Regions from separate parts of the Homo sapiens genome. Here regions 2, 3, 4 and 5 are each linked to region 1. Evidence: fine-mapped expression QTL. A gene starts in region 1. Each other region holds a variant in brackets. All regions are shown on one strand. Distances are from middle to middle.

Region 1 (6,264 bases):
AAATGGGAAGTCTTTGTTACCTGATACCCGGAAGGGCAATTTCAATTCCTGGTCTGGAGTACTCTAGGAAAGTGTGAGGTCTAAAGTTATCCAAATAAAATATTTTAATTTATTTTAATTGGTTAAATAATAATTGTAATTTGGGGGCAGAAAGGGCAGAAAAAGACAAATCACAAAATGAAACATCATAATTTTTTAAAAATCAGTGCCCAAGCCAACATTTTGAAACATAACATTTTAACCTCTTTGGCACTAGTTGGGTCATAAGCACTGGAGTTTTTCAAACTGTTGTTAGACTGGCTACAATTTATTGTTTCTCAAAACACAAGACAACAAATACATGTCCTTTGGGGAATATTTATTATTCTAAGGAAGACTTCATCCTGAGGGAGGGGAAAAAAATGTCAACACCAAGTGGTACAGGGCAGAAGAGGGCTGAGAGACAGAGGAGAACTCAACAGCCTCTCTCCCTGACGGCCCCTCCATCATCTACACATTCATTATGGGTTAAAGGACCTGTACACCCACTTTAGGACTTAAAGCAAAGTGCACAGTCCACACTCTCTGGATCACAAGACTATTAGTACATGCCAGATGCTTCTGTGCAACCCTTGTGGCAGTAGAAACACTGCCTATCCTGCTAATCCTTTTATTATTAAGTTTAGCAGTGCTGCTTAGCTCAGAATGAAATTCAAGCTCCCCCAGAAAATTCAATGGGAGCCTACTTTCCTGGGAGATCATGGGGCATCACATTCCTACCTTGACACTTGTCCGGCTGTCAGGTTACAAATTAATTGCAACTGCCCCCAACATGTCACACACTCCCACTAACAAAAATTAAATAAAAATAAAACAGGGAAAGTCCTTTCATTCCTTCATGGTTTGCACAGCCTAGAGGCTGATTCCTACTCTGGGAGATGCTGCCCCACTCACCTCCCACTGACATGGGTGGTGTGCCCTGTATTACACTAAAAAAAAAAAAAAAAAAAAAAAGCTCAGTCCCAGAGCCTCAAGACTCGACTAGGGTAGGTGAGAAAGGAAATCCCAGAGATAAACAGTTAAATAGATTTAGAAGTCAGAAGTTAATTGTGCTGAGCCCTGACACAACCTTTCCTGATTGTGTGCGCACCGAGTGGGGCATCTTTGGGGTCCTGGAAGAGGGGCTCCCACCTGCCTACATATTCACCCACAGCAAATATGCACACGCACGCGCAACCACATGCACACACACACCTTTGCACCTCACACTAGCTCTCCTGACAGCCCAGAGGCACTTACTACCCGAGGACAGGGCTGCCAGCAAAGCTGCCTTCTCCCAAACAACTCGCCTTCTCCTCCAACTTGGGCGACAGTGAATGTCCACCAAGATTCCACGGGGCTCTTTTACCCAGGACCCAGGTTCCTGCAGGGCTCCCCACTTGCTGGCCTCACAATCCCTTTTCCTTTCTCCGAAACACTCAGACTTCACACATTCCTTTCGAGGTAGCTCCAGTCCGGCGCAGCGCGCGCTCCATCCCTCAAGGCTGGCGCCCAGGGCAGCCCGGCCTCTCTCACTCTGGGGAAACTTCGCCACCGCCCCACGCGGAGAACTAAAGACCACCGGCGGAGGGTGAGGGGGACCGACACGGAGCGGAAAGCAGGTTCCGGGACTGAGGGCGTCTCCGGAGCCTGGGCGCGGGAGACAGAAATGAGTGAACCCAGCTGATGCATGCCTTCTCCACGTGGAAGAAGGGAGGAAATACCAGTGGGCGACATGCAGGTGCCCCTCTCAGCCCTCGGAGCTCCCATCTCCTGGCGGAGTAGGGCCCAGAGGGGCCAGAGTCCCTCCGGAGGCAGCTGCCCCGCGCCCCTAGCCCGGGCGCAGTGAGACGCGCGCGCAGGGTGCACGCGAGGGGAAGGAGACTGGGCGCGGATAACGCGTGCCTGGCGCTTGCAGGGCACCATGCCCCTCCATGCCAGGATAAGGCCCCCCACCCTCAGAGGCCTGAGGAATCGAAATCTGGCTTTCTAGCAGTCCCCCAATCCCCTCCGGGAGTGGGTTCCTTGTTCTCGCATGCCCACCGCAAAGGCCCCCCGCCCTGCTCCCGGCGTGTGCCCCGCGCCCTCGCCCGGTTCCACGCGCACCTGGATGTGGCAGGAGATCTCCGAGTCGTCCAGCAGCCGGATGGTGCATCTCATCTCCTGGCTGAGCGATTTGACGCTGGAGCTCCGAAAGTGGATCATTTTCATGGTCCTCCTGCCTCTCGGCACACAGTGGCAGGAGGCGAACATGCACCGCGGCCGTGGGGAGCGAGCGGGAGGCTCAGGGCCGGCGCGGTGCTCGCCTGCGCGGACACACACGCTCGCACGCACTGTCCGGGACACCTGGGCGCGGCTCAGCCCCGGGACATCGGCAGCGTCGGGCGCCTGCGGACACACATGCCCAGCGGCCGGGGCGCGGCGGGCGGGTCCCTCCCTCTGTTCGCTCGCCTCCGCCTCGCCCCCTCCTTTCCCCGCCTCCTTCTGTCGCGCGCGCTCGTGCGCCTCCCTCTGCCCGGGCTCGCTCGCCGAGGACGCCCAGAGCCTGAGACCCCCGGCGGGCTCGCGACGCACTCACTCCCACGCGCGCCGAGCAGCTGAAGGAGGAGGCGGAGGGATGGCTGGCGCGGCTGGCCCGGGTGCCCTGGTGGTGGCCTGCTCAGTCGCAGCCGCCGCTGCGTCAAGCTGGGCCCGACTGCCTTCCTCAGCCTCACCGCCTCCTCCCTCCCCTGGCCGCTGTCGCTCGGGCTCCCGGTTGTGCTCGTCCCGGCCCCGGCTCCCCAACGCGCTCGACAGCGCCCTGCTCTGCTCAGCTCCAGGGACCTGGCGCGGGTAGGGGACGGAGAGCGATCCTGACCCACACCGCCAGGGGGATTCCGCCTCGGGAAAGGATTGCTGGGCCCAGGGCGAGTGACAGAGAGAGTGACAGCCCTGACACGGCTACACCAGGAATATCGCTAATAGTAAAAATCTCTGGTACTCATGGAGATTGTTTAAGCCATTGTTTTATTTAATGCTAGCTAGGACTCAGTCTCTTTCTCCAAAAAAGAGCCTTCCATGTGCAAATCCTCCTTTAAATCTCCCAACATCTTAGTGTGATCTTTGATAGCATACCTTTGACCCGAGCAAGAGGGATAGGTTCCTATCCTACTCCCCTGCTTTACAGACCTCCTCCAGTTCCCGGTTGCTCAGGAATTAAGAGGTCTAATGGCAAAGCGGATGTGCCCCATCCCGTTTTAGTCCAATCTCTGGGTATTGAGGACTCTGGAATTCCCCACGCGCCTCCAGGGTGTTGAAGGTAGGAGGTATCCTGCCTCTCTGTTGTCCCCAAGGTGGCTAGAGCCACTGTGTCAGGTACCGTAGGCCCGAGAGTGGCCAGGAGCAGCTGTTGAGTCAGGGGTATGGAGCTTGAATGTGAGCACTAGAATGTCCAGGAGCTGGGAGAGATGGAAGTCCTCTCACCCTGTTGCTCTTGCCGGAGCAGAACAGGTCATTAGGAAGGAACATTTGTTAGAAGAGGAGGTGTTGACCAGCTGTCAGCTTTTTCAAGGTTTGTGCCTGCATAGAGTCCCCTCATCCAAAGATATGCCCTGTCCTGGGGGTCGAGGAAGAGTGGCACACAAATTTTACCTGCCCTGGACAGTCTGGTGGGCCATATATTCTCTAGGACACCTAGTGGGGTTGGCTAAGGTTTGGGGGAGTCCGCATTGCATTTGGACTTCTCTCTCTGCCTGCTCCTGCCTCCTCTCCCTGTTGATCACTAATAAATACCACACAGGACAAACTCAGTCTCAGTATCTGCTCCTGGAAATTCCAAATTGCAACAATTTGTCAAGATAGGAGGATAGAGAATGTTTTATGTAGCACTCAATAGCTGACTATTGCTTATGAATATTTAGATGATAGTATGGGGCATTCATGTAGGCTCTTGAGCTGGGCCCTTCAAATGTTAGGGCAGATCCTGATGGAGAGGTCAGTATTGAGGGTATGGGAAGATGTGGATTTCATTCTTGGCCCAGCTACTGGCTAATCCTGGGGATCTTTGAAAAGTCTCTCCATTTCTTTTCTCATTTCAAAGGAGAGAACACCTGTTCATCCCACAGGTGGCTGGGAAGCTGGTATGACACCGGGTCAGTGGAGGACATCTTACAGCTGTAATCTGTAAATCCCCATATGCACATATGAGGTGGCAGGGATGGGACCTGCCCCAAGTTGAAAACTGGATCATCTCTGCTAGCCAAAAGAGCAGACAGCCCAGAGATCAAAGAAAAGTCACCAGCCAAACAGTCCATGCTTTTCTTTTAAGACCACACACACACTTGTCCATCCTATTATAGTGACCGTTAGGCTCCAAAAGAGTCATATCAATACCCAAAAATTGTTACCCCAAATTCCAAGGAAGCAAAATAAGACCAACAAGGACAGTAGTGAAAAAGACAGAATAAAGATAACCCAATGTGGGACTGTAAGAAACAGAATTTTGAAGAAATGAGAAGAATCTGAGATTGGTTGTCTGGCCTGATTAGGAATAAAGGCTGAGATTCAACTAGTATGAAAATACAGGCTCTGGAAGCACTTGGCATGACAGCTAGGTAAATTACCAAGTATGGTCACCTGGATTGAACTACCCAATGAAGACAAGGCTCTGGGAAACCAACTGGCCATTGTCAACAATAATAATAATAATATGAAGATTAGGAAGAACTCAAAGAATGAACTCAAGGGATGAGTTTAAAACTGGACCACTGAAAGAAAAGTAGTGATGCACTAAGTCCTAAATTATCAGCTTATGACTTTTAAACAACTGTATTTTTACAAACAACAGAGCTCAAAGAATATCTTGTTAATTGAGCCACAAGGCCAAAACTGAAAAACCAAATTCACAATTTCATCTACAAATCGCCAAATTACAAAGTCAATTGAATTATCGGCCTCACAAGATTTTATAATTATCAGCAGGAAAGAGTGGGAATCTGGGAATAAGAATAGGACTATAAAAGAAAACTTGAATGATTCCTAGTCACTCAAGCCCCCAAACTCCCTTGGCAGCAGAAGCATGCCCTCTTCCTTATGTAACGAGGCTGTTCCTGCTTTGTTTGAAGATCCTCTTCGGAACTCACTTAAGGCAGTTACCTTGGAAAGGGAAGCCGATCTCCTCCCACCCCTCTCCCACCATCTCTGACTACTCTCACTCTTAATACTTGAACCAGATTCAGTCACACCCTAGGAGACCAACTATAAAGTCAACCCCAAGAAGAGAAAGAATTGCAAGATTCTGCTAATTTACATTGAAGAGTATATGTGTGAATAAACCTGAATCTGTCCATTTGAATTCACTTCCCAATGACTCTGGTTTCAATGTACTATCTAAATTGACTAACTGACTTCTGGACTCAGCTAAATGAAGATGAGAAAAAGGAAATTCCCTGGTACATGTACAGGAAAAGATCCAAAGAATCAAGGAGATGGAAATATTGCAGTGTATTTCCACATGTGGCCAGCTTACCTCTCTTTAACTGTGTCCCCTGAGGGGGCATCCACCAAGATTTTCAAAGAATCATTGGCAAAGGAAGGACTGCCATCTTTGAAAAGCACCAAAGTGGCTGTTCTTTGTAGCAAGAGATGGTTGTGAAAGACACTGCAGTCAAAAGGAGCTCCCTGACTTAAATGGGAAGGATGAGAGCCTGGGCTGGCAGAAGACAAATAGTGGTGCATGACTTAACCCTCAGTGCCAGGGAGGGCTTGGTACAATCATAAGCAGTGGTACCCAAGTAGACTTCAGAATGGTGTGACTCATAGGGATTTTGCTGGTGGCCAAGCATCCAACTAGGACTCAATTTGATCTATAGGACAAACAAGATTTCTACACCAGGTGAACAAAGGCCAGGCTAAAATCCCCCTACAAATATTCCCAAATCTGAACCTGTCCCCCAAAGACAACCAGAAACATTTTTTTATTTTTTATTATTATTATTATTTTTTACCGATTGGGTCCCACTATGTTGCTCAGGCTGGTCTCGAACTTCTGGCCCCAGTCAATCCTCCTGCTTGAGCCTCCCAAGTAGCTGGGATGACAGGCAACAAACAGAGGACATTTGAGTACAGGAAAGGTGGCTCCACTTGAGGCATTAGAATGTCAGCCATAGCAGTGGCTGCAAGTCCAGTTCTTACTAAAGAAGTGGCAATGGGTGAGATTAATTAGTGTCTCACGCTCAGTGATAGTAACTGATATTCTTTACCAAAAAA
Region 2 (6,264 bases), 69 kb after region 1:
TAAAACTGAAAGGATTTTGGATTTAGTGTCAGACAAGAATTTTTTCAAGCCCCCAGTTCACCATTTATTAAGCAGTTCTTCAACCTCACGGCACCTGTTTTCTCGTCTGCTAAATCCCAATCTTACAAGGTCACTGTGAAAAGTAAATGAGATGCTGTATTTAAGTGCCGTGCCCTGCATCTGAATCACTGTAAGCCTCTCCTTTTCCCTCTCCCACTCACCAGGTGGTGGGATTTCAGGGGTCAGACCAACAGCTAGAGGCAGAGCCAGGTGTCCCAGAACCCCAGCTACTGTGTCTCAGAAGTGTAATAAAGGCTCAAGCCAAAGAGGGGCCTTAGGAATCATCTACTTCACTGACCCTCTCCCCTTGATCTAACAGATTAGAAAATTGAAGCCAACAGAACTGATTTCCTTTTTTACCTTATTTAACCAATAAGTTTATTTATTTGTTGAGCAGTTGCCATGAAAGGCACTGTGTTAGGTCACTGGCGTTCAAGTACTAATTTTGAATGCAGCAGTGTGCTAGGTGCTATAAACATGAACCATATCAAGGATGAAATATACTTAGAGACATGCCAGTCCTCTCAAAACCCCAGTCCTGGCCGGGCACGGTGGCTCACACCTGTAATCCGAGCACTTTTGGAGGCGGGTGGATCACGTAGTCAGGAGATCGAGACCAGCCTGGCTAACACGGTGAAACCCCGTCTCTACTAAAAATACAAAAAATTAGCCAGGCATGGTGACAGGCACCTGTAGTCCCAGCTACTCAGGAGGCTGAGGCAGGAGAATTGCTTGAACCCGGGAGGTGGAGGTTGCAGTGAGCAGAGATCACACCATTACACTCCAGCCTGGGCAACAGAGCAAGACTGCCTCAAAAAAAAAAAGCAAAACAAAAAACAAACAAAAAAAAAACAATCCTAGAGGAAGTTGGGAAGGAGGTGCAGAGGGTCAGAAGAAGACTATGGAAAAGGTTATGAATGATCCTTTAAGATATAAAAAATAAACTAATCATCAGCATATTGTATCAAGTCAACATTATTGCTAATCGTGATAAATTCATCCATATTGAATCCATCACTATCTATCATGAACCAGGCCATTGTTAATCAATAAGCACCATCTTGCACAAAACATCACCATGGCAAATGCTTTGCCTCAGCATATTCAGTGGATGTTCTGCAGAATGTGACTCTGCTCCCCAGGAGGAAAAGGAACATTCACAGCAGTACCAGCTGCTTTCCAGAAACCCCGTGTGCAGAAACTCTTGAGGTACTTTTCATGTCTGTAATTCTGAGGGACTGTTATTCTTTTCCTGCTCATCCTCAGTGAATAGACTACTTCTGGAACCTGCTGCAGTCAACTCAAACAGTAGACAGGTGTCATGACAGTGCAGAAGAAAAAACAGTGATGATATGTGAGTGTGTCTGGGAACCCGTGGGGCAGAAGTCAGAGTGGAAAAGGGCAGAACATCAGTTTGTATCAAACAACCACAAATATCAGCAACACCCAACATTCAGCATTTACTTCTCACACGGCTATGGGTTCTGCCCTCTCAGCTGAGCCCACCCAGGTATCTACAGATTGATTGGCAGTTGCCTCAGCTGGGCAGCTTGGCTTTAAGGTAAAGGTCTAACTGGTTGGGGCTACTCATAGCAGGTTGGGCTTACATCTGCTCTATGTGTGTCAATTCTAGGGGGCAGGAGATAACAGTCTCGTAGGCAGCAGCAAACTCTTCTCAAGGTGATGGCAGAAGCATAAGCAGTCAAGCAGAAAAAGTGACACGTCTTAAGGCCTAGGCTCAAAACTGGCACACTGTCACCTTCGCCTTCACTCCATCAGCCAGAGTAAGTCAGATGGCCAAGCCCAAAGACAAGGGGCACAGTGCTTCACACAGAGGACTGCAGAGTCACATGGTAAGGGCAAGGGATGTTGGTACAGAGCGGAGTGAAAAAAGGGGCCACTAAGTCAGTAGACCACAGACAGGGGCAGAAAGAAGTATCTAAACCAAACAGAGCACAAAATCAGGGTAATGCCGTCTACCAGTGTCTGATCAACAAGAAATACAGGTATAAGAAAGTATCCGTCCTAGCCAGAGCAATCAGACAAGAGGAAGAAATAAAGGGCATCCAAATTGGTAAAGTGGAAGTCACATTGTCACTGTTTGCTGATGACATGATCACATACCCAGAAAACCCTAAAGACTCATCCAAAAAGCCCCTGGGTACATGAATTCAGCAAAGTTTCAGGATACAAAATTAATGTACACAAATTAGTAGCCCTGATATACACCAACAGTGACCAAGCTGAGAATCAAATCAAGAACTCAACCCCTTTTACAATAGCTGCAAAAAAATAAAATAAAATACTTAGAAATATACTTAACCAAGAAAGTGAAAGACCTCTGCAGAGAAAACTACAAAACACTGCTGAAAGAAATCATAGATGACACAAACAAATGGAAACACATCCCATGTTCCTCGATGAGGAGAATCAATTACAAAAAATGACCATACTGCCAAAAGCAATCTATAAATTCAATGCAATTCCCATCAAAATACCACCATCATTCTTCACAGAACTAGAAAAAAAAATCCCAAAATTCATATGGAACCAAAAAAGAGCCTGAATAGCCAAAGCAAGACTAAGCAAAAAGAACAAATCTGGAGGTATCATATTCCCCTACTTCAGACTATACTATAAGGCCATAGTCACCAAAACAGCATGGTACTGGTATAAAAACAGGCATACAGACCAATGGAACAGAATAGAGAACCCAGAAATAAAGCCACATACTTACAGTCAAGTGATCCTCTACAAAGCAAACAAAAACATGAAGTGGGGAAAGGACATCCTAATCCACAAATGGTGCTGGGATAATTGGCAAACCACATGTAGAAGAATTAAACTGGATCCTTATCTCTCATCTTATACAAAAATCCACTCAAGATGGATAAAAGACTTAAATCTAAGACCTGAAACTATAAAGATTCTAGAAGATAACATTGGAAAAAAACGCTTCTAGACATTGACTTAGGCAAAGACTTTGTTATGGTTTGGCTGTCTCCCCACTCAAATCTCATCTTGAATTCTATCTCCCAGAATTCCCACGTGTTGCAGGAGGGACCCAGAGGGAGGTAATTGAATCATGGGGGCCAATCTTTCTCATGCTATTCTCGTGATAGTGAATAAGTCTCATGA[A/G]ATCTGATGGGTTTATCAGGGGTTTCCCCTTTTGCTTCTTCCTCTTTTTCTCTTGCTGCTGCCATGTAAGAAGTGCCTTTTGCCTCCTGCCATGATTCTGAGGCCTCCCCAGCCATGTGGAACTGTACGTCCAATTAAACCTCTTTTTCTTCCCAGTCTTAGGTATGTCTTTATCAGCAGTGTGGATACAGACTAATACAATGAATTGCTACCAGTAGAGTGGGGCATTGCTGAGAAGATACCTGAAAATGTGGAAGCGACTTTGGAACTGGGTAACAGGCAGAGGTTGAAACAGTTTGGAGGGCTCAGAAGACAGGAAAATGTGGAAAAGTTTGAAACCTCCTAGAGACTTGTTAAATGGCTTTGACAAAACTGCTGATAGTGATATGAACAATAAAGTCCAGGCTGAAGTGGTCTCAGATGGAGATGAGGAACTTGTTGGGAACTGGAGCAAAGGTGACTCTTGTTATGTTTTAGCAAAGAGACTGGCGGCATTTTGCCCCTGCCCTAAAGATCTGTGGAACTTTGAACTTGAGAGAGATGATTTAGGGTATCTGGCAGAAGAAATTTCTAAGCAGAAAAGCATTCAAGAGGTGACTTGGGTACTGTTAAAAAGCATTCCGGGCCAGGCGCGGTGGCTCACGCCTGTAATCCCAGCACTTTGGGAGGCCAAGGCGGGCGGATCATGAGGTCAGGAGTTCGAGACCAGCCTGGCCAACATAGTGAAACCCCGTCTCTACTAAAAATACAAAAATTAGCCAGGCATGGTGGCACACACCTGTGGTCCCAGCTACTCGGGAGGCTGAGGTGGGAGAATTGCTTGAACCTGGGAGGCAGCGGAGTTTGCAGTGAGCAGAGACTGCGTGCCACTGCACTCCAGCCTGGGTGACAGAGTGAGACTCCGTCTCAAAAAGAAAAAACACTCCATTTTAAAAAGGAAACAGATCATAAAAGTTAGAAAAATTTGCAGCCTGATGATGCAGTAGAAAGAAAAACCCATTTTTTGAGGAGAAATTCAAGACAGCAGCAGAAATTTGCATAAGTAGCAAGGAGCCTAATGTTAATCCCCAAGACCACTGGGAAAATGTCTCCAGGCCACGTCAGAGAACTTCACGGCAGCCCCTCCCATAAGAGCCCAAAGGCCCAGGAGGTAAAGGTGGTTTTGTGGGCTGGGCCCAGGGTCCCCATGCTGTGTGCAGCCTAGAGACTTGCGTGTCCCAGGCCGCTCCAACCATGGCTGAAAGAGGCCAAAGTACAGTGAAGTAATTCAGGAATGGAAAACCAAACACTGTATGTTCTCACTCATAAGTGGGAGCTAAGCTATAAGCTATGAGGATGCAAAGGCATAAGAATGATACAATCGGCCAGGCACAGTGGCTCACGCCTGTAATCCCAGCACTTTGGGAGGCCAAGGTGGGTGGATCCCCTGTAGTCAGGAGTTCGAGACCAGCCTTGCCAACATGGTGAAACTCCGTCTCTACTAAAAATACAAAAATTAGCCAGGCTTGGTGGTGGCCACTTTTAATCCCAGCTACTCGGGAGGCTGAGATAGGAGAATCACTTGAACCCGGGAGGCAGAGGTTGCAGTGACCTGAGATTACAACATTGCACTCCAGCCTGGGTGACAAGAGTGAAATTCCATCCCCAAAAAAAAAAAAGAATGATACAATGGACTTTGGGGACTCTGGGGAAAGGGTGGGAGGGGGGTGAAGGATAAAAAGACTACACATTGGGTACAGTGTACACTGCTCAGGTGAAGGGTGCACCAGAATCTCAGAAATCACCACTAAAGAATTTATCCGTGTAACCAAACACAAACTGTTTCCCCAAAAACCTACTGAAATTTAAAACACACACACACACACCTGGCAGCTGGGGGGAAGAAAGTACCCCATTTTTCAAGATGAAAAAGTTCTAGAGCTCTGAGCTCTGTTGCATAACAATGTGAATACACTTAACACTACTCAACTGTCCACTCAAAAATGGTTAAGGTGGTAAATTTTGTTTTGTGGGGGTTTTTTGTATAAATTTAGGGGGTACAAGTGCCATTTTGTTACATGAAATATTGCACAGTGGTGAGGTCTGGACTTTTAGTATAACCATCACCTGAATTGTGTATTATACCCAATAAGTAATTTCTCATCCCTCAGCCCCTCCCACTCTCCCACCCTTCTGAGTCTTCAATGTCTATTATTCCACACTTTATGTCCATATCTACACATTAGTTAGCTCCCACTTATAAGTAAGAACATATGGTATTTGACAGTTTTCTGGGGCTTTTTTTTTTACTACAACTAATAATGTTTTTTAAAAGGAGGATTTACTCCATTATAAATTCTGTCTGTGGTAGCCAGCCTCCAAGACAACACCCCCAATAATTCCTACTTCCTGACATTCACACCCTTGTATAATTCCCTCCCATATTGTTCCAGAAGTGACTGTGACACAAGATTAGGTTATAAAAGGTTGTGGCTTTCATCTTGGTTCTCTATCTCTGTCTCTGTCTCTCTCTCATAACTCACTCTGGAGGAAGCCAACTACCATGTTGTGAAGCCACTCAGGCAACCAATGGAGAAACAGATGTAGCGAGCAGCTGAGGTCTCCAGCCAACAGCCAGCAAGAAACTGAGGCCTCCAACAATATGTGAGTGAGCATAGAAGCAGCACCTTCCCCAGCTGAGCTTCCAGATGAGTCTGCAGCCCTACTGACAGCTTCACTGCCAGTCCAGATTCCTGGCCCTCAGAAACTGTACTATAATAAATGTTTGCTGTTTTAAGCTGCTACGTTTTGGGGTAATTTGTAATGTGGCAATAGGTAACTACAACCCTATGTGATGATCATTGATATTTATAATGACCCAGGGCACTTAAATATTCTGACATATTTTCTTTTTATATATATATAAAGAGAGAAAGACAAGGTTTTCCTATGTTGCCTGGATTGGTCTCGAAATCCTAGCCTCAAGCAGTCCTTCTGCCTTGTCCTCCCAAAGTGCTGTGATTACAGGCATGAGCTCTGTGCCCGGGTCTGACATGTTTTCTGAATCTTCAATAAAAGATGCAACTA
Region 3 (6,264 bases), 280 kb before region 1:
ATGCTAAGGAGTTGAGTTGCCTACCTCATGGCACATGTCACCACCCTGCGTCTGTTGGGTGGTTCCCTTGATGCCCATTTTCCCCTTATTCAAAGTATCTCACACTTTGATTCTGCCTTCTAGTGAGTCATGCTTGAGAAAAACCTTTGGAAATTCTTATTATAAATAATTTTCTCCTAATTTCTCCTTATATTACAGTTAGAGCATTATTTTGACTTAGTTAAGTGTAGGTAGACTGTGTTTTCTAAAAGTTACACCTCAGGATGGTAGCGAGAACATTACAAGGTTTTTGTTTTTTAGGGGGACACTGGACCTGAAAGTATGACAACCACAGCTCAAGCACATGTGAAACTGTCAGGTCTCTATAGATGTCTCATAGTTGTTACTAACCAGACCCATTCCTCCTGAGGTGGGCTAAACTGAGTGATCTAATGTTGATCATCTTGGCAATACTTGCTCTGGGAGGCATGCTGTACTCTTGAATTCAGGGTAAAAAGGAGAAAGGTGAAGGAAGAGTGGGAGAGGAAAAAAGAGCAGATCACCACTCCACTTCTGGAAAATATGATGGAGTGAAAAGAGCAGTGGCCTAAGACACCTGGACTCAGGTTCCCAGCTAAGCCACGGCTATCTGAACAACATTAGGCATGCCACTTCAGTTCTATAGTCTTGGACTTTTTACCTGCAAAATGGACCAGACCCTCCCCAGTCCAGCATTCTGTGGCTCCATCTTAGACTATGTCTGTCCATAAACTGTCCTACTTAAAGTTATATGTAGAAAGAGAAAAGGAGACAGGGGCACTAAGATTTTTAATAAATGTCTACTCGGCTGGATACTTTAAATATATGAGCATGTGATATTCATAAGTCATGAGAAAAATGAGGCATAGGCAAGTTAAGGTCACAAAATTAGGAAGCAACAGAGCGGAGGTTTGTATCCATGCCTGTCTGATTCCAAAGCCCATGCTTTCTCCAAACTTACCATGTTGGCTGAAGAGAAGGAGATCTGAGAAGCCCAGAGAGACTCTCACTTCTTAACTAAGGGGGAAGAAGCTTCTCTGTTACTGGCCCCATTTCATCTGCTGAACCCATGGTGTCCTTACATGTAGGGTGCCCATTCATCCCCATTTGCCTGGAACAGTCCCACTCTATGTCTGTCATAGTGTCAGTATGGCAGTATTGTTAAAATTCCCTTTTCACTCTCAAATAAATTTTATGATAACTTAATTATAAGTAAGCTCTCCTGTGATGGTATCATAGCCACGATAGAAGCCACACACATACACAAAAACCACTGGCTGTTGCGGGACTTAATGACTTAGGTTAGAAATAAAATAAACTTTATTACTATACTCTCTACATGTTCTATCAGTCCCTCAAATGTTTTCTATTCACAATAAGCAGCATGCAGACTTCTAAAATTTAGTAAGATAGTATACCATTAACCTCACATGTGACTCCTTTATCGCTCCTTTTTGGAGGATAAAGTTTAATACTTCAAGCGAAACTCCTGTCCCATGGGTTTAAAGAAAAATCCTAAGAATGACATTTACTTTTCCAGATGAGAGTTTTTACTTTCAGCAATGGACACTGCAGAAGATCTAATACTACAAATGTTCCTGGTGCCTCTGAATATCTTTGGGAGTCACCAATTCATTCTATTAAAAACCTATGAAGAGTCATTCCAGTGACTCAGGAAAGTATCCACAAAAGGAAACTTAGACACACACACACACACACACACACACACACACACACACAGCAGATCCTAATACTCTCCCATCGCTGCTCCCCAGCTGAAATCTGGAACACTGCCTCTCATGTAAACATCTTCTCCTGGGACTCAGGGCTGCCAGCATAGGCTGGCATTCTTCTTGTTCTTCTTTCCCCATCCTTAGGCTTCATCCTTGCAGACTAAACTCTCTCTTCTCCAAGTAGCCATCATTTGCCAGCCTCTTGGTTATGCCTCTACTTTTGCTGACCATCTTGACACCATGGTCAGTTGCTCTCCCCACCTGCTGAAATGGCTCTCACAAAGTCTCCAATGATCACCATATTGCTAAAGCCAATGAGTGTTTTCTTCTGTCCTCCTACAGATCACTCAACCTCTGAGGTTCCATACTCTCTTGGTTTCCATCCAATGATTCTAAGCTACCTCTGTCTTCACAGTCTCTTCACTACTTGTGAGGGCCTAAACTCTCTGCTCTTCTTGCTCTGTACCCTCTTTCTTGGTGTTTCAACCATATTTATGGCTCCAATATGCTACTACAGTATTGTTCAACCTGGTACTACAGGTCACCAGTGTCCCTTAAGGTTCTGCCAGCTGTCCCTTGAAAAGAGTGTTCCATGGTCAGCTAAGTTTGGGAAACTGCACACTCTATCACTCTTTTGGATATTACCATCAAGGTTAAAAATCCAAACTCTGAAGTCACCTTTCTGGGTTCGAATCCTGGCTTTGTACTAATTGCCACCGACAGTTTCTTAATTACCTAATTGTGCTATTCCCAGTTTCCTCATCTGTAAAATGGGGAAAATTTCAGCACATACTGCATGCAGATATTGTGTGGAGAGGAATACCTGAGTTAATACATGCAAAGTGCCTGACACTGGTAAGCACTCAATAATATTACTACTAGTATATAAAAATGTCTGCAAGGTCCTGAATAGAAGAAATCAGTTTCATGTAACTCAATATTTCTCAAATTAATTCTCCCAGAGAACATAGAACACAACTTAGTTTGGAAAATCCATGTTGCTGAATCTCTGGTCTATCTCAACTCAGAACCCTCCAATGAGATTTACCAGGCAACTGTACATAGGAACATCGACTTCAATACATCCAAACCCAAATGCATCATCTCCCTCCCAACTCTTTACCTCCAATAACACACACTATGTAGTAAATGACACCATATTTTCTTCAGTTTCTTATATCAGCAATCCAAGGATTGGCCAAAATTACTTGTTTTCATGCACTGCTCACATCTGTCATTAACTTCTGCAAACTCTGCCACCTTCTTCATTTTCAAAGTTATCCCTGCCTCTCCATTCTTATCACTTCTTAACTGGATGATAGCAATGGCTTCCTAACTGGTTTCCTTGATTTCAGTCCAGCTT[A/C]TTGTAAGTTGTTTCCAGAATAATCATTTTTAAATGCCTAATTATTTATATCAGTCCTCTTCTTAAAAGGTTTCTCAGCCTTTCAGGTTAAATATTAAATTAAACTCTTTAGCCTGGTACAAAAAGCATTACTCTACCACATACGCTTCCTCCCTGCCCACCTATTGAGGGGTTCCCATATGTGTCATGCTATGTCATGCCTCTGTGTCTTTGCACAGACTGCTACTTCTTCCTGGAATGTCCTCTGCACCCAGATAGCTCTTACTCATCCTCTAAGACCCTATGTGTTATGTCCTCTGGGAAGGCTCTCCTATCCCCCACTCCCGGACTGAGATATATGCTACTTATCTGGTACTTTTCATGGTTGACTCCTTATGGCCCATTTCTCTCCAAATGATTAGTCTAAGCCAGTCGTGGTAATTCCAGTCTCTTGGTCACATTTGGTTTTAAAACGGGCATATGGGCCAACCCTGAAAATAAAAATCAAAGGGGAAGAGGGGAGGGGGCCTGAGGGGATGGATTTTTGAGAAAGGTTTTTACTTCTAAGAAGATCATCCTGGAATGGTACAGACTCCTTATCTGTTGACATTGTTGTAACTGAAAGAAACAGCAGAAACTGGCAGCCGTCCTATGGTGCTGACAGCAACGGCATGAGGGGAAGCTTGGCTGACTGAGAAGAGTGATGTAGAGATAAAATGAAACTGGTCCTCAACCCTGGAATCCTCTCTGACTCTGGACTTGTCTTGGATAATAAATCACCTTATTATTTAAACCAGTGCTAATTAGAATTCCTCATTACTTGCTGATGATGGCATCCTAAGTGATGCAGCTGTCATACCATCTTCTGGATCTCTTTATCTTCACAGTCAGTCATTACACTGTGCTGCAGATTTATTATGGGTTTTTCCACTAAAATTTTATCTCCTGAAAGGAAGGGACTTGAAATATCTACTAGAGAATTGTAGAAATCATTACATGTCATGGCAAACATTATATAATAGCAAAACGTTGGAAGAATTCCCACCAAAGTCAGGAACATTACAAAGAATTATCACCACACATCAGTATTGGCCCTAGCTAATGCAATATGATGAAGACAAAAAATAAGAAGTGTAAATATTGGAAAGTAAGGCACAAAACTCTAGTTCCAGATAATAGAATTATCTACATAGAAAAGAGATGAAAATGAAACAGGACAATTAATAAGAGTTTAAAAAGGTGTTGGAATGCAAGATCAACATATTAAAGCAGGTGGTTTACTGCATACAGAAGAGACAATATAAAAAATGATAATGGAAAGTATCATTCAAAATAGCCAAATGCACAAATTAAAACATCCATATATATCCAGGAATATCCATAACAAGAAGCCTGGAAAACTTGCATGAGGACAATGTTAAAATATAACAAAGTAGCATAAAAGAAAATCTCAATAAATAGAAAAACATAATATTGTTCCTGAATAGTGGCCTTGATACATTGAAAATTCAGCTCTCCTCTCATTAATCTAAAATTTGATGCAATTTCAATAGAAAATCCAACACACTTTCAAAAAAGACAAATGGTAAATGTACACATTAATAATCAAAAACTTCTGGAAAATAAATCAGTGAGCACATCCAGACAATGGAATATTATTCAGTGCTAAGAAATGCCATGAAAAGCTATAGAGGAAGCTTATATGCATATTATTCAGTGAAAGAAGCCAGTCTGAAAAGACTGCATATTGTATGATTCCAACTAATTGACATTCTGAAAAAGGCAAAATTATGAATATCATAAAAAGACCAGTGGTTGCCAGGAATTAGGGGAAGAGAGAGAGAAATAGGTGGAACACAGAACTTTTAGGGCAGTCAAACTATTATGTATGATACAACAGGGGTAGATACATGCCATTAAACATTTGTCCAAACCCACAGAATGTACACCACCAAGGTGAACCCTAACGCAAACGATCAACTTTGAATAGTCATGATGTCTCAATGCAGGCTCATCAAGTGTAACAAATGTACTTCTCTTGTGTGGGATGTTGATGATGGGGGAGGCTGAGCATGTGTGAGGGAAATTCCCCATATGTGGAAAATTTCTATGCCTTCCTTTTAATTTTACTGTGAACCTAAAAATCATTCTAAAAGTATAACTTCCTTTGAAAAAAAGCAATGCAGGGGAAACCTGACCTACCTGATATTAAAACTATACTGTATAGTAATGGAGCAGGAATAATAAAAGATATAATTCAGAAATATACCCTTTAATATAATGGAAAATTTGTTTATGAAAAAGTTTTGCAAAAAGTTGCTAACCAATTGTGGGGGGAGGGGGGAAGGTATATCCCTATACCATGTCATGCACGTGTAAAAATTCCTAAGAAGATAAAGGGTTAAACTAAAAAAAAAATTAGATACCACGTGAAATTGCCAATTTTGAAGGTCATAAGCAGTTATTATCAGCAATTTCATAGAGTTCAAGTAAATGCATTAATTATGAAGAATAAAAACAGGAAACACTTTTATAATCTTGGCATGGGGAAAACTAACATAAAAACAGAAACCTAAAATATACAGAAAGCAAATAGTTTGCACATACAGAAGTTCTCTGTGCATATAAAAAGTGCCCGTGTCGGCCAGGTGCGGTGGCTCATGCCTGTAATCCCAGTACTATAGGAGGCCAAGACGGGCGGATCACGAGGTCAGGAGATTGGGATCATCCTGGCTAACACGGTGAAACCCCGTCTCTACTAAAAATACAAAAAATTAGCCGGGCGTGGTGGCAGGCGCCTGTAATATCAGCTACTCGGGAGGCTGAGGCAGGAGAATGGTGTGAACCCGGGAGGTGGAGCTTGCAGTGAGCCGAGATGGTGCCACTGCACTCCAGCCTGGGCAACAGAGCGAGACTCTTAAAAAAAAAAAAAAAAAAAAAAAAGTGCCTGTGTCATAAAGTTAACATTAAATAAAAGTTGAAAGCCAAGAACCAATTAGGAGAGAAAACATTAACATTTGTAAAATATAAAGGATTAATATTCACATTATAAAAGAAATACTACAATCTATAAGGAAAGGACAAAAACACAATAGAAATGTACTAAGTAAACAAATAGGCAGTTCTGCAAAGAAGAAATGAAAATACACAATTATTTGAAAAGATCCTCAT
Region 4 (6,264 bases), 250 kb before region 1:
CAATTCCAGTTGTGAGATGTCCCTTCTCTTTTCTTCTCTATTAGCCACACCCTCCTTCATTTAAACTTGGGATAATCATGACCTTCAGAAAAAATGATTTTCACTCAAAGCAATATTCCAAGCATATAGGAAGAAACTCAGAAAACCCTTAGTGACCAGAAATTAAAACTGCTTTTCTTTCATTTGCAAAACACACAAAAACAGATAATCTCCTGAAAAACACAGACAAGCAACATGGACCCAGAGGCCCTTAGGCTAAGGAAATTCATTTGGCATGGAACTTACAGAGTTCATTGTTAAGATAGATAACAAAAGCCATTTATAACAAGAGTGTTCTCATTATCATCATCTCTTGTAGCCCAGTTGAAGACAAGTAGTGTCTTCTAAGATCCCATCTTTCATACTTTGCACACTTTTCCTCCACCCATGGAATTTTGGGCATCCAGTTGCCTAGTTCTCCTTCTAACCATCAAAGCTGCCTTTCAGGAAAAGATTTACTAGAATTTTTTATGTGTCACTGCAAATTGGTTGCTGCTACCTATCTCAAGGGTATCTGCATTCCAAGCCATATCCTTATTATAGACTAAGAAGTTTTCTCCTGTGAAATAAATTCTTGACTTGAAGCTGGAGGTGAAGGTGATCTTTTGGGGACAGAGTGATCTGCCCTCTTGAAACTGCCCAGTATCCAGATTTTCAACGATGAAACCAGAATCACAAAGTTAAGAAAAAGCATGTTTGTATTCAAAGGTTCCAATAAGTTTATTTTGTGTGCATTTGTTTTCAATTTAATTAATTTCATCAACTTAATTTAAACAAATCTTTGAAATTAATAAAATGTGAGATGTCTGCAGGTGTTTGCAGCAAGCATTGTGGTGAGATTCTTCCCTGAAGTAAGGAGAGTCCTTAAAAACAAAGATGCCTAGAAACACACATATTATTATTATCTTTAAAAATATAACAAATGTGGGGGTTGCAGTGGACACTTCACTTTTTTTTAGCTTGTATCAAAACTGTTGGACAATGTAAATGAAGGATCAAGAACAAGAAGCCTGGGGGAATAAATGGGATGACGAGTGTAGAGATACTTGTGGAGAACTCTTTATTGCCACCAATTTAATTGTGATTACAGTGGCAGACATCAACATCCAATAGAAGTTTCAGTGATAGAGGAAATTATCTCAGTCTCAGTGTCCAATATGGCAGCCACCAGCCACATGTGGCTATTGAGCACTGAGAATCTGGCTATTGTGACTGAGGAAATGGATTTTTAATTACAATGAATTTAAACTTAGTTTAATACAGCCACACATGGCTAATGGTTAGTGTACTGGACTGGTGTAGGTCTAACACCATTAGTCTTTTCATATATAATTTTAGAAATACTTTATACCAGTGAAGTCTCTCCAAGAGAAACTAATAGAGCTCCCAGTATAATACAGCCTTCCAGCTGCAAAAAGCTTATTTACTAAAAACATAGTTTATGGCCCACTCCACCCCATACACTAATCAATTACCCATCATATGCAGAATTGGCGCCTCCCTTGTTTTTTCCAGAGGAAGCCTGCAGCACCAGCATTTGGGATGAAGAGACAGACTTACCCTCACCCAGAGGAAGTTCTTCTTCTTGCTCGCTGGGGGAAGGAAGCAGGGGCTGCAGGGGTTCCATGTTAATGATGAGCTGTTTGTTCAAGGAGTGGGAACTGCGGCTCTGAGTAATGTTGGCTCTGAAAACAGACACAAGCCAGACAGAGTTGGTTTCCATCACAAATGCTGGCCCCTCCATCTCAGCGGGCTGCCCAAGCTACCATTTTGTGTCTACAGGGAACTACCTCCAGACACAGTGAATTGAGCCAGTAGTAAAGATGACGTAACATTCAAGATAAATGGCCCTTTCTGCTCTTAAGGTCCTGACCAAATGTCCCTATGTTCTACTGCAACTCAACGAAAGAAAATACAGTTCCCAATACATCACCAGCCCTGAGCATGCTAGGTGACAGCCTGGGCGTTTTTTAAAAAAAAAGAAAGAAGAAACAAAAAGACATGGGAGGTAGCTAGCACTGAACTAGATATGTAGAAAAGTGAATGAAGGGCATGGCTCAGAGAAATTTAACAACCACCAACAAACAAAAACAAAAACCCCTGCCAGATAGATGATGCAGATGTTCTACAGCTATAAGCTATCTTTGTGTTGCTGGATGTCCAATGTTTAATATCAGTGTTTAATATTCTCAAAGTTACACCCTACTCACTAACTGGCCATGGCTCTGTTTTCTCCTCTGGAAAGGAGCATGCAGGTGTGTCTGGCTGAGACTAGCAACAGATGGCAAGGAAACTGTGCAGGTATCTCATTAAGCCTATTGGTTGGGAGCTGGGGAGCCCGCTTGCCCTACCTGCTGCAGAGATACTAGCTGCTTGCCCTAGTCTGCCTGCAGGTGGATGTTTGCACACCCTTCCTCACTCCCCATGCTTCCTGTCAAAACCAAAACCAGTGCATACTTTAAAAAGGAGTCAAATGTTTCCTTCCCCTGGAAGCCTTCCCAGATTGCTCCTCCCAATGCACACAGTCTCTCTCTCTCTCTCTCTCCCTTCCTCTCCCTCTCTTTGACTACTTTCTCTTCTTTCATAACTCACTGCATTTTCACCTCTGTCTCTGTCTAGTTATTGGTGTACTGATCATCCCCACCTAGATAAGCACCTTAAGGGCAGAGACTGAGCCAGCCATACTTGTGCATCTCACTTGGCATCTTGTGAAAATGTGTTCAGGTTTGAAACTAAAGTGCACCAAATGCAATCCTGGCTTGACATATGTTGCCATTTCAGCCTGGTCAGAGTGTTCCCTAGACCGGCTGCAGGACTACCTTCTAGCCTGAGTGTTTCTGTTGGGCAGCAGGAGTGGGGAACAGCAAGATGCCTGCTACCATCTTGAATTAAAAGCTCCCATGGCTGGCATGGGCTAGAAAGGAAATTTATGAGGACTTGCTTAGCCATGGAGTCCTTTTCTTCATTATTTCATTTTACAGCCATTTACTCTGCAGCTGATATATACAAATTGGACATTCTGCTTTGCTCCAGAGAACTGTAGTCCTCACCTTAAGTAACTCACTGTCTAGAACCATAATTTTTAAGCTTTCTGGTCTGAGACCTACATTAATAAATACTTTTTTTTTTTTTTTGAGACAGAGTCTCGCTCTGTCACCTAGGCTGGAGTGCAGTGGTGCAATCTCGGCTCACTGCAACCTCTGCCTCCTGGGTTCAAGCAATTCTCCTGCCTCAGCCTCGCGAGTAGCTGGGATTACAGGTGTGTGCCACCACACCCAGCTAAATTTTTGTATTTTTAGTAGAGACGGGGTTCACTGTGTTAACCAGGATGATGGTCTTCATCTTCTGACCTCATGATCTGCCCATCTCGGCCTCCCAAAATGCTGGGATTACAGGCTTGAGCCACTACGCCCAGCCCCAAGAAACACATTTTATATAATCTCCCTGTACCCAAACACACACAGGAAGAAGCACAACTGAAATTAATGTCTTATGGAACAATAGTTACATATCTATGTATAATCCACTATTTTAAAATTCTAGTTCATTTTAAGTCCCAGTCTTGATCACTACTTTATTTCATAACTACCCCCAACTTTGTATTTTTTATTTTTTATTTTTTTGAGACGGAGTCTCACTCTGTCGCCTAGGCTGGAGTGCAGTGGT[A/G]CGATCTCGGCTCACTACAACCTCCACCTCCTGGGTTCAAGTGATTCTCCTCCCTCAGCCTCCCGAGTAGCTGGGATTACAGGCATCTGCCACCATGCCCAGCTAATTTTTGTATTTTTAGTAGAGACTGTTTCACCATGTTGGGCAGGCTGGTCTCAAACTCCTGACCTAAGGTGATCACCCACCTTAGCCTCCCAAAGTGCTGGGATTACAGGCGTGAGCCACCACGCCCAGCCACATGACTCCTTTATGTGCTGTAGCCACAGCTGGAACACCGTGCCTCTCATGAAGGTGACTGATGGCCAGGGTCCCATGGGAGCACAAAGGAGGGGCACCTAATCCGGTGTGAGTGAGGAGAGAGCCAGGAGTGATCTCCCAAGGGAGGCAAGGCCTGCAGCTGTTCTGGTGAGCACAGTGCTTTCTACAGGGAAAGAACCGTAGATAGAGAAATCTTTACAAAAGGAAGGAGGGGAGGGAGGGAGGAAGGGAGGGATAAAAATTCGCCATGAGCAGTTTCTTCTTTTATTGTGAAGGGTTCTCAGTTTTTGAGCTCTCCTGGGATTTCTTCTGGTCATGGCCACTCATGACTATGATTCTAACTCTGCAAGGACAACATACTGTCATTCCTGTGTGGTCTGTGTAGCTTTCTGACCTCTGAAAAGCCCATCCATCCATTCTTGCACGTGCAGTTCTGAATTGCTCTACTCCACCTCTGACCATCCATGCCAGCTGGACTGGCTGCTGTTCCTATCCCCAGGAATCACTGCTTATGCTACAACGATGGGCCCTCGGTGAGCCTTTATGAGCTTATTTTGCTCCCCATCAGACCTCCTTCCAACATTCTGTAGCTGGAGATACCAAGCATCCTGCTGCCCCCAACCCACAACATTGCAATGTCCAGACAATTGCCTAGCTCTAAGACAGGCTGGGCTCACCAGGCTGATATCCCAGGTATGAGCCTGCCTTGGCATTAGATGGCCAGGAGGATGCCAGCTCGGCCCCTACATTCATAGGCTCCTGTTTCTCTGGTGTAGCAGAGGCCCATGGCCAGGGACAGGGGCATATAGGACGTGCCTTGTATTAGACCAGGTGACTCCTGCAGTGGATTACAACCCTGAGACTCTCCAATAATATGACTCAGAGAAGAACATTTCTTCCCTGATAAGTATAAGACTCAGATAAACCCAAAGGTGGATACAACTAGGGATTTCCCTGAAGCACAAAGAATCCAGGGCTCCCAGCCCAATGTGAGGCACTTTGACAGCCTGGGGGAAAGAGTCAGCAACATTAAAAAACAACAGGCCAAGTCTCCCACCTTTCGCTATTGTGATGGCCTCAATGTCTGTGTTTCCTTAAAATTCATTTGTTGAAACCTAAACTCCAATGTAATGGTATTAAGAGGTGGGGCCTTCAGGAGGTGATTAGGTCATGATCACATGAATAGAATTAGTATCCTTATAAAAGAGGTCTGAGAGAGCTTGTTTCCCCCTTCTGCCATGTGAGGACACAGCAAGAAGGCACCATCTATGAGGAAGCAGGTGTTTGCCAGATGCTCAATCTGCTGGTGTCTTGATCTTGGACTTCCCAGCTTCTAAAACTGTGAGAAATAAATTTCTGTTGTCTATAAGCCACCCTGGTCTATGGTATTTTGTTATAGCAACCCAACTGGACTAATAAATCTACCAACTCCTTTAAACTAAAGATTACACCTTCTTACCTAATTCTCTCTTTAAACTTTTTAAAGGTGCCAACTGATCCTGGCTTCATTTAAAGCAAGAGCCCGCCAGCCCAATTGAACTAATGACAAATATAATACGCAAATTTGAATGGCTATCTTCTTTTCATTTGCAAAGTTGTTTGTATAAACTTTACCTCATCTTTTTCTCTTAGTGCGTCTTGCCTATAAGACAGGCAAGGTAAATGTCATATTTGCAGATGAGAAAACTGAGACTCAGGGAGCTTATGTAATGTGACTAAAGACGCTTATATGGGCAAACTTAGGACTCAAAGCTCAAAGCCAGATAATCTGATTCCTGGTCCAAGGCTTTTGCTATGCTGCACACTGCCTTTCTGCATGATTTGGCCTGCAATGTCCCAAAGGAGACTCTGCTTGCTACCCCTACTGTCCTCCTGTTTCTGGCTACATGAGGTCCCACTGTGTCAGGCACTTTCTGAAGTATGTGCAGATGTCCCAGTCAGCTTCCACTCTGCCTTTCCACCTGAACTCCTGAGGTAACTGTGTTTATGCCTGAGGTCCCTCCAGGCCAGGCTAGGATACGTGCCATGTTTCTCCACTCTCAGAATCCATCTATCAGATGACTCTGCAAAAATATCTGGCCCGCTTTGCAGCCCCACTCATGCATGTACTCCCAGCATAGAATGGTCTCCAAATGAAGTTGTCATTAAGAACTCTATTGAAATAGAAAGGTTTCCTTTGGGAACTACAATTATATTCTAATACTGGGGCAAATGTGGTTTGAATATATTTATCCCATTTGTTTTTCTCATTGTGCATGTAAGATGGGCAAGAAAAATACCATATTTACAGGTGAGGAAACT
Region 5 (6,264 bases), 290 kb before region 1:
GAGTCTCATGCAGCTCTCTCTGGCGTGGGAAGGCACCCTTTTCTGGCCAGTGATGATAACATATTAATTTCTAGCACTCTGAAATCCATGCTCCTATCTGTCAGTCAGAATACCCCTCTTCTATTATTTTTTCTGTGCTTTTCTATTTCTCTGGTTAACTTAATATCATGAATTAGATCAAGGTTTATTTTATGTTTGAGCATATTTTCAGTGCTAGTATTCCTGCTTTGGGCCTGGATGACTTCTGCAAAGGGTTAATCTAATCTATTACCTGGGATTTTTTTTTTTAATACTATCACCATTATATGTTGACCTCATTTCATGGTCCTAGAGGGAATCCTTTTATAGTTTCCAACAACCTGACTATACAACTTTACTTTAAATAAAACTGAATGATTGCAAAAAATTTTACCCCAGAGTATTTTTATTAGGGATTCCTGCCACCATATTAACATATAAAACAATCTGGATGTTGACATAGAAATGCAAATTTCACTATACAAAGGTAAGGCTCCAATCACAGTAACATGGCCCCCATATCTCTAGTATTTCAATGAAATAAACTCATTGTGAATTCACCCCGAGTTGTGTTTATAAATATTAGACAAACCACAAAATATATTCCAAATACATAACATTTTACAATATTTTTCAAGCACAGACAAATACATACTTTACTTTACCTACATTGTTTTCATGATCCAACTTGCATTAGCACTAAAGGCAATATTGTGTGTGTATATGTATTTGCCATATGTGTGTGTGTATTATATATATTTATTTATATCCACAAATGTACACTCAGTGGCATTTATGGAAAATTTAACCCTTTCAGGCTGTGGGTTTTACCCACCATAGTATCTGAGAGGGAGAAGAACCAATAATACATCTCAAATTCCTCAATTAGGGCAAAATAAGCACAATTATGCATGAGGGGCATATATGTTGTGTCTATTCAAAGACACACATATATACAGATTCATATATAAACACACATATACCAATAATATGGAATATACATATACTCACACACTTGCTTTAAACTCTATATCTCACTCTATAATATACTGTCCATCTCTGGAAGCAGGCTTTTCCTCATTCGATTCAGGCAACTGGTGACTATCTTCTAACAAAACTTAAATGGATGTTTCTAAAAGGCTCTGATTCTATGCCGAGCAAATGGCATTTCAAGATTCCAGTTTAACTTTTGATGGCTGTTTAAATTCAGCAGACCCTATTCTGTCAACTTCTTCACTTAAAAACATTTCTATTCAACAATGAAGTTTCCACCTAAGAGAAAAGAGATGTTAGCTGGAAATGTTAAAATAATATATTTATTACTCCTTAAGATAAATCTGCATCGTTGGATTACATGTGATATTTATACTATCATATTTTTTAAGTATTTTACAATGGAAAATATATTAGTTCCATAATTTAAAAAATATTATATAATATTATTTTGAAAGACTGAGGGCCAGATGATTTGTCATAGTCAGAACTTTAGAGAAAATTATATGACGCATGATCAGAAGGGGACTAATTTTGTGCAGACTACACTAAAGTTGCCTTATGTCAGAAAGGATGACTTAGAAGTCGTATGAGAAAAGAAGGAGAAAAACACAAATTTCAATTTCAAACCTAGCCATCTGCAAGCTTCCAAAATAAATTGTTGAGGATTCCAATCACAGAAAATATATTCCTAAATCAGTATCAACTTTCAGGTAATAAACAAACAATCTTTATTTAAAAAGCAAAATAAATCACTGAAAGCATATAGGAAAGGAAACCCCTCAAACTTAATGGCAAATATATAGTCATTTGCTCGACTGCAGGCTTCACGAACTGAGTTTCAAAACTCATTTCCAAAATTAAATGTCCAGTGAAGTACTCAGAGCTCCACTGAGTGAGTGGAAATGTATTGCCCAATTTAGAAATCATGCTAATGATAGGGTTGGAATGTCATTAGCTAGAGAGAGCGATTCCAAGTGGGCCCTGTAACTTTGTACATTAGGGCAGTGGAATGTTTTCAATCCACAGAGAAGCTCTATGCTCCATGGCATAAGTTCTAGACTCTTATCTTTCTCCCACATAACACAGTATCAGCAGGTAGTCTGCATGGGAAGGCATCAGTACGTTGCTGATGGTACAATGCTCTAGTACCTTCCTTGATACCATTAAATTGTTGGATTAAATCCTTTCCATCATGGATTTAATGGTATCAAGGAAGGTACTAGAGCACTGGTCCCCTCTACAGTCTGGTTAGGGTCATGTCACTACTTTACCCAGGCTGAACTGGTATGTCATCTCATGAGGCCTCTCCAGTTTCTCTATGGAAGTCAAATTTTAAAACAACTGGGAAAGGAAAGGAGTATAATGACCACCGCAAAACATGATCATGGACATGTATCAAAAAGCCATTCATATTCTCTCTCTCTCTCTCTCTCTCTCTCTCACACACACACACACGCACACTCACATACAAACACATTTTTGAAGTTTCTTCTACAGAATCACAACAAATGGCATGAGGGATCAAAATATTTACCTTAAAGTTTCTCCACTTTTATTTAGATCCACTTAAACATGTTCATGTTAACTCAGACAGCGACTGCACTGCTCTTCACATCATCGAACGCTGGCATCACCATCACTTTCATAAAATAGACCATTCGCCTGTCACCATTTGCCTGCCAGCCTCACCAGAACTCATTTTTGCCACTTTCCATTTCTCCAGTTCCTATCTGCCTTCACTCTTGGGTTAATGTACATTGATATGCAACTGACTAGCACATCTGTTACCTTTTTTCCTTTAAACTCTCACTTTCTTTTTAAAACATCTGCTTCTCCAGCCAAAATATACGGACAGAATACAAATGAAAATAACAAGTCCTCTTGTCCAAATACTTTGAAAAATGGACCACCCTGAGTCCACTTGATGCTCTCAGTTTCTACATCCTCCAGTTCCATCCTCTGTTTTAGCAGCTTACTTACTATAGTGTCTTTCTACCCATTTTCTATCTCCTATGCAGATCATAACAAATTATGGTATTGTTCAGCCAAAAATATTTTTAAAAACAAAGTAGCGCCAAAACATTAAAAAAATTCTGATATACCTTTTGTGCATTAGTCTTACAATCTGTACATGTAAATAACTCCAGGAGGCTTCTTTTTTTTTTTTGCTAAAAATTTACCAAAATAGTTTGAACACATAAAAATATTTTTAAAAAAACA[G/A]AACCAAAAACCCAGCATAAATTTAGTTGTATAGGCATTGGTTAGAGGACACTGTTTTCACTAAGGATTATATTCAACAACTTTCTCTTGAGTTGTTACTAAAATTCTGATTCTGAACCTTATAGCTTATAATGGTGCCAACTATTAGAAATGGGAAAATCTAATTCAGTCCAATGTAACATGTATTATGATATAATAGATGAAGGGTATGTCTACACTATAATAAAAAATAAACATATTTTTGGTTATTTAAAGACCATCTTCCTAACCTGTAACTAAAATAACTGTATTTGATTTAAACTTATTTAAGTGCAGTGAATTATGGAAAGCTAACTTAAAGGTTTGAATAATCAATTATGAGTAAGGAACACCTGTTGACAGCCCCGTGACCCTTCAGAACCAGGCATTTGCTGAAAAAAAGAAATCACTAGCATTGAATATAGCCCTTAGTCACGTGAGAGATTAACTTCATGAGCAACCCAGCATGTAGAGGATGAGGTGGACTTTCCCAGCCACCCACTCCTTGAGGGGACAGTAGTATTCATAGTGAAACTGCTCAAACTCTGGTGTCTGGCGGATTTCGCATAAGAAGGAGAGATCAATACCTGACTCCAAAAGGAGGAGGAGCAGGGGAAATACAAAGAGCAGCAGTCCCAGGCCCACCACAAGGAGCCTGGAAAAACTCTTGACCAGTGGGTTCACCCGAATATGGCCAGTCAGAATGTCATAGCTCCACGACAAAGCACGGCGAGCCTCCTTCAGCTCCTCTTCTTCAGCAATCAAAAAGGCGTTTTCATCTGCTTCCAGATCCTCAAATGAATCTGTGTCTTCTCTTTCCAACTCAAGCCTAGAAGGACAGTCAAAGAGCATGTCAATCTCATCGTCATCCACAGGGGTGGGGAGCAGGCTGGCACTTGGGTTGTACACTAGTTCAGAGATGGTTAAAGGTTCTTCTTTTATTTTATCTTCCTCTTCACTAGGGGGATCTTCATACTCCCGGGCTGCCTTCACTGGGGAGCTGGAGATCAAGGGAGCAGAAATGTTCTCCTCTTTAGGCAATGGAACACCTGTAAAGAGACATTTTTTTTTCTAAATTTAAAATTTCAGATTTTCCCACAAAAATCTGCAGGAAGAAACAGAAAAACAAAAAACTAATGGGATTCAAGCAATCTATGAAATTATTCTGTGGTATCCTAAGTTGTAACAAAGTCGTATTATAGTAAAAGACCCTGTACCATAAGTTCAAAGGTCAACATGCTAAACTCAAACTAACCAACACTTCTCAAATGGTTGGCAATATTTACAACATTTAGGTGTGCAATTTTGATCTGCAAACCTTGAACCTTGGCCATGTTTGCTTGAATAAAATGACAATAAATTCACTATTATAATTATGAGCACTGTTTTTTTAGAGGTCAACAATATCACCCGATATATTATAGTAAAACAACAGAATCTGTCATTCAATGACAATCTCTTTATTATTCTGATGTATTGCTTTCTAGTCTTCATTCTAGACACAATTTTGTGTTCTAGTTTTATATATTTGCAATCATATTATATACCCAAGCTTAAATCATGCTCCTTGCATTTAAAATTTTAACATAAATATTTTCTATGTTTAAACAAATTCCCATTGGTATTATTTATAAAAGCTGCCAAATTTTTTATTTAGTTATGCAATAAATTAGTTGCCTATTGTCAAACATTTAGATTGCTTTGCAGTTGTAAGGAGAAAATGCTATGAGACATCTTTACATATAAAGCTTTTTTTCCCCTCTTGTTTTAGTTCATTTGCTATAGATAGATGCTAGAAGGGAAATTGCTTAATCAAAGGGTAAGAACTTTTTCTAATGTTTATTGAGAGAGAGGTGTTTCTCAATGCCTCATTTTACTGATGGGAAATCGAGTTACCTATGGTCAGACCTAGGGCTAACTCTGCTAATTTTGAGTCTTGGATCCATAGTGGGAAATAAAGTTAGCATCAAAGAAGTGTCCTCCAGGATGGATCTACCATACAATCAAAATGGCAGCCAGGTGCATTTCGGGAACCATAAACCAGCTTTTAATGAATCTATTATGTGATTTTTCTCTCTTCAAGGTGTACAGGCATAACTTACTGGTTTTAGCATTCAAAAATCAACAGATATTTCATGATAGCTCTAGTCTGATAGCACTGAGAAGTCCAAATGAAAAATACCATAAAAATACAAGAAATATACAAAAGGTCAACAAGCACATGAAAGTATGCTGAACATCATTAATCATTAGGGAAATGCAAGTCAAAACCACAATAAGATGCTACTTTATGCCTACTCAGATGGCAACAGCTTTTTTAAAAACTGAAAATAACAAGTGTTGGTGAGGATGTGAAGACATTAGAACCCTGCATATTGCCAGTGAAACTATAATTGGTTCTGGCCATTGTGAGAAAAAAATTGACAGTTCCTCAAAAAATCAAACATAAAGTTATCAGATGACCCAGCAATACCACTCCCAGGTACATACTCCAAAGACTTAAAAACAGGTACTCAGAACGCTGGAACCCAAGCTGGCCAATTAGAGGCAGCTGTGGTCTGCAGCACTCATGGAGATGAATAAAAAGGGGCTAGTAAATGCAGCACCTTCAAACTGAGATACCCAGGTTCTCGCATTGGGACTGACTGGGCAAACAACTCAACCCACAGAGAATAAAGAAAAGCAGAAGAGGGGGTGATGGCCCACCTGGAAGATGCACAGAAGCAAAGGAGACCCCACCCCGACCCCCAGCCAAGTGCAGTGTTGAGTGATTGTGTGACCCCACCCAGGAAACCACACTTCTCCTTTGGATCTTTGCAACCTGCGGATCAGGAGATGCCCTTATGAGCCCAGGCCACCAGGGCCTTGGGTCTGATACACAGAGCTGTGTGGAGTCTCGGCAGAGCAGCCACTCAGGCACACACAGAGACCCAGGAGTTTTACATACTCTGGCCCCAGGATCCCTGGCAAGGCAGGAAATCTATCTGTACATATCCCTAGGAAGGTGGTTGA

Direction of the effects. Alleles are on the strand shown, and positions count from the first base shown. SD is a standard deviation of normalised expression in the study named. Not every link is listed here.
As copies of A replace G in region 2, the expression in monocytes of the gene that starts at base 2,441 in region 1 goes down (moderate effect, 0.73 SD a copy in Quach 2016).

The links.
Region 2: its variant is fine-mapped to the expression of FRMD3 in monocytes (Quach 2016, PIP 0.95). The same link has a PIP of 0.9 or more in monocytes after LPS and monocytes after Pam3CSK4.
Region 3: its variant is fine-mapped to the expression of FRMD3 in whole blood (TOPMed, PIP above 0.99).
Region 4: its variant is fine-mapped to the expression of FRMD3 in whole blood (INTERVAL, PIP 0.91).
Region 5: its variant is fine-mapped to the expression of FRMD3 in whole blood (INTERVAL, PIP above 0.99).

Annotation. Positions count from the first base shown.
Region 1 is chr9:83,535,961-83,542,224 of GRCh38, forward strand. FRMD3 (FERM domain containing 3) reads right to left here and starts at 2,441. Exons shown (of 14, transcript NM_174938.6): 1 at 2,125-2,441. The coding sequence starts at 2,271. RefSeq lists a silencer at 394-688.
Region 2 is chr9:83,604,604-83,610,867 of GRCh38, forward strand. No RefSeq gene overlaps it. Among named protein-coding and RNA genes, the nearest start is that of IDNK, 15 kb to the right of the region's middle. The variant A/G (reference allele first, on the strand shown) is at 3,199.
Region 3 is chr9:83,259,384-83,265,647 of GRCh38, forward strand. All of the region lies in intron 13 of FRMD3 (FERM domain containing 3), which reads right to left. All of the region lies in intron 2 of FRMD3-AS1 (FRMD3 antisense RNA 1), which reads left to right. Among named protein-coding and RNA genes, the nearest start is that of FRMD3-AS1, 43 kb to the left of the region's middle. The variant A/C (reference allele first, on the strand shown) is at 3,115.
Region 4 is chr9:83,289,004-83,295,267 of GRCh38, forward strand. It overlaps FRMD3 (FERM domain containing 3), which reads right to left. Exons shown (of 14, transcript NM_174938.6): 13 at 1,600-1,724. It overlaps LOC124902190 (a long non-coding RNA gene), which reads left to right. Exons shown (of 3, transcript XR_007061614.1): 3 at 1-864. Among named protein-coding and RNA genes, the nearest start is that of FRMD3-AS1, 73 kb to the left of the region's middle. The variant A/G (reference allele first, on the strand shown) is at 3,706.
Region 5 is chr9:83,244,216-83,250,479 of GRCh38, forward strand. It overlaps FRMD3 (FERM domain containing 3), which reads right to left. Exons shown (of 14, transcript NM_174938.6): 14 at 407-4,301. The coding sequence ends at 3,703. All of the region lies in intron 2 of FRMD3-AS1 (FRMD3 antisense RNA 1), which reads left to right. Among named protein-coding and RNA genes, the nearest start is that of FRMD3-AS1, 28 kb to the left of the region's middle. The variant G/A (reference allele first, on the strand shown) is at 3,235.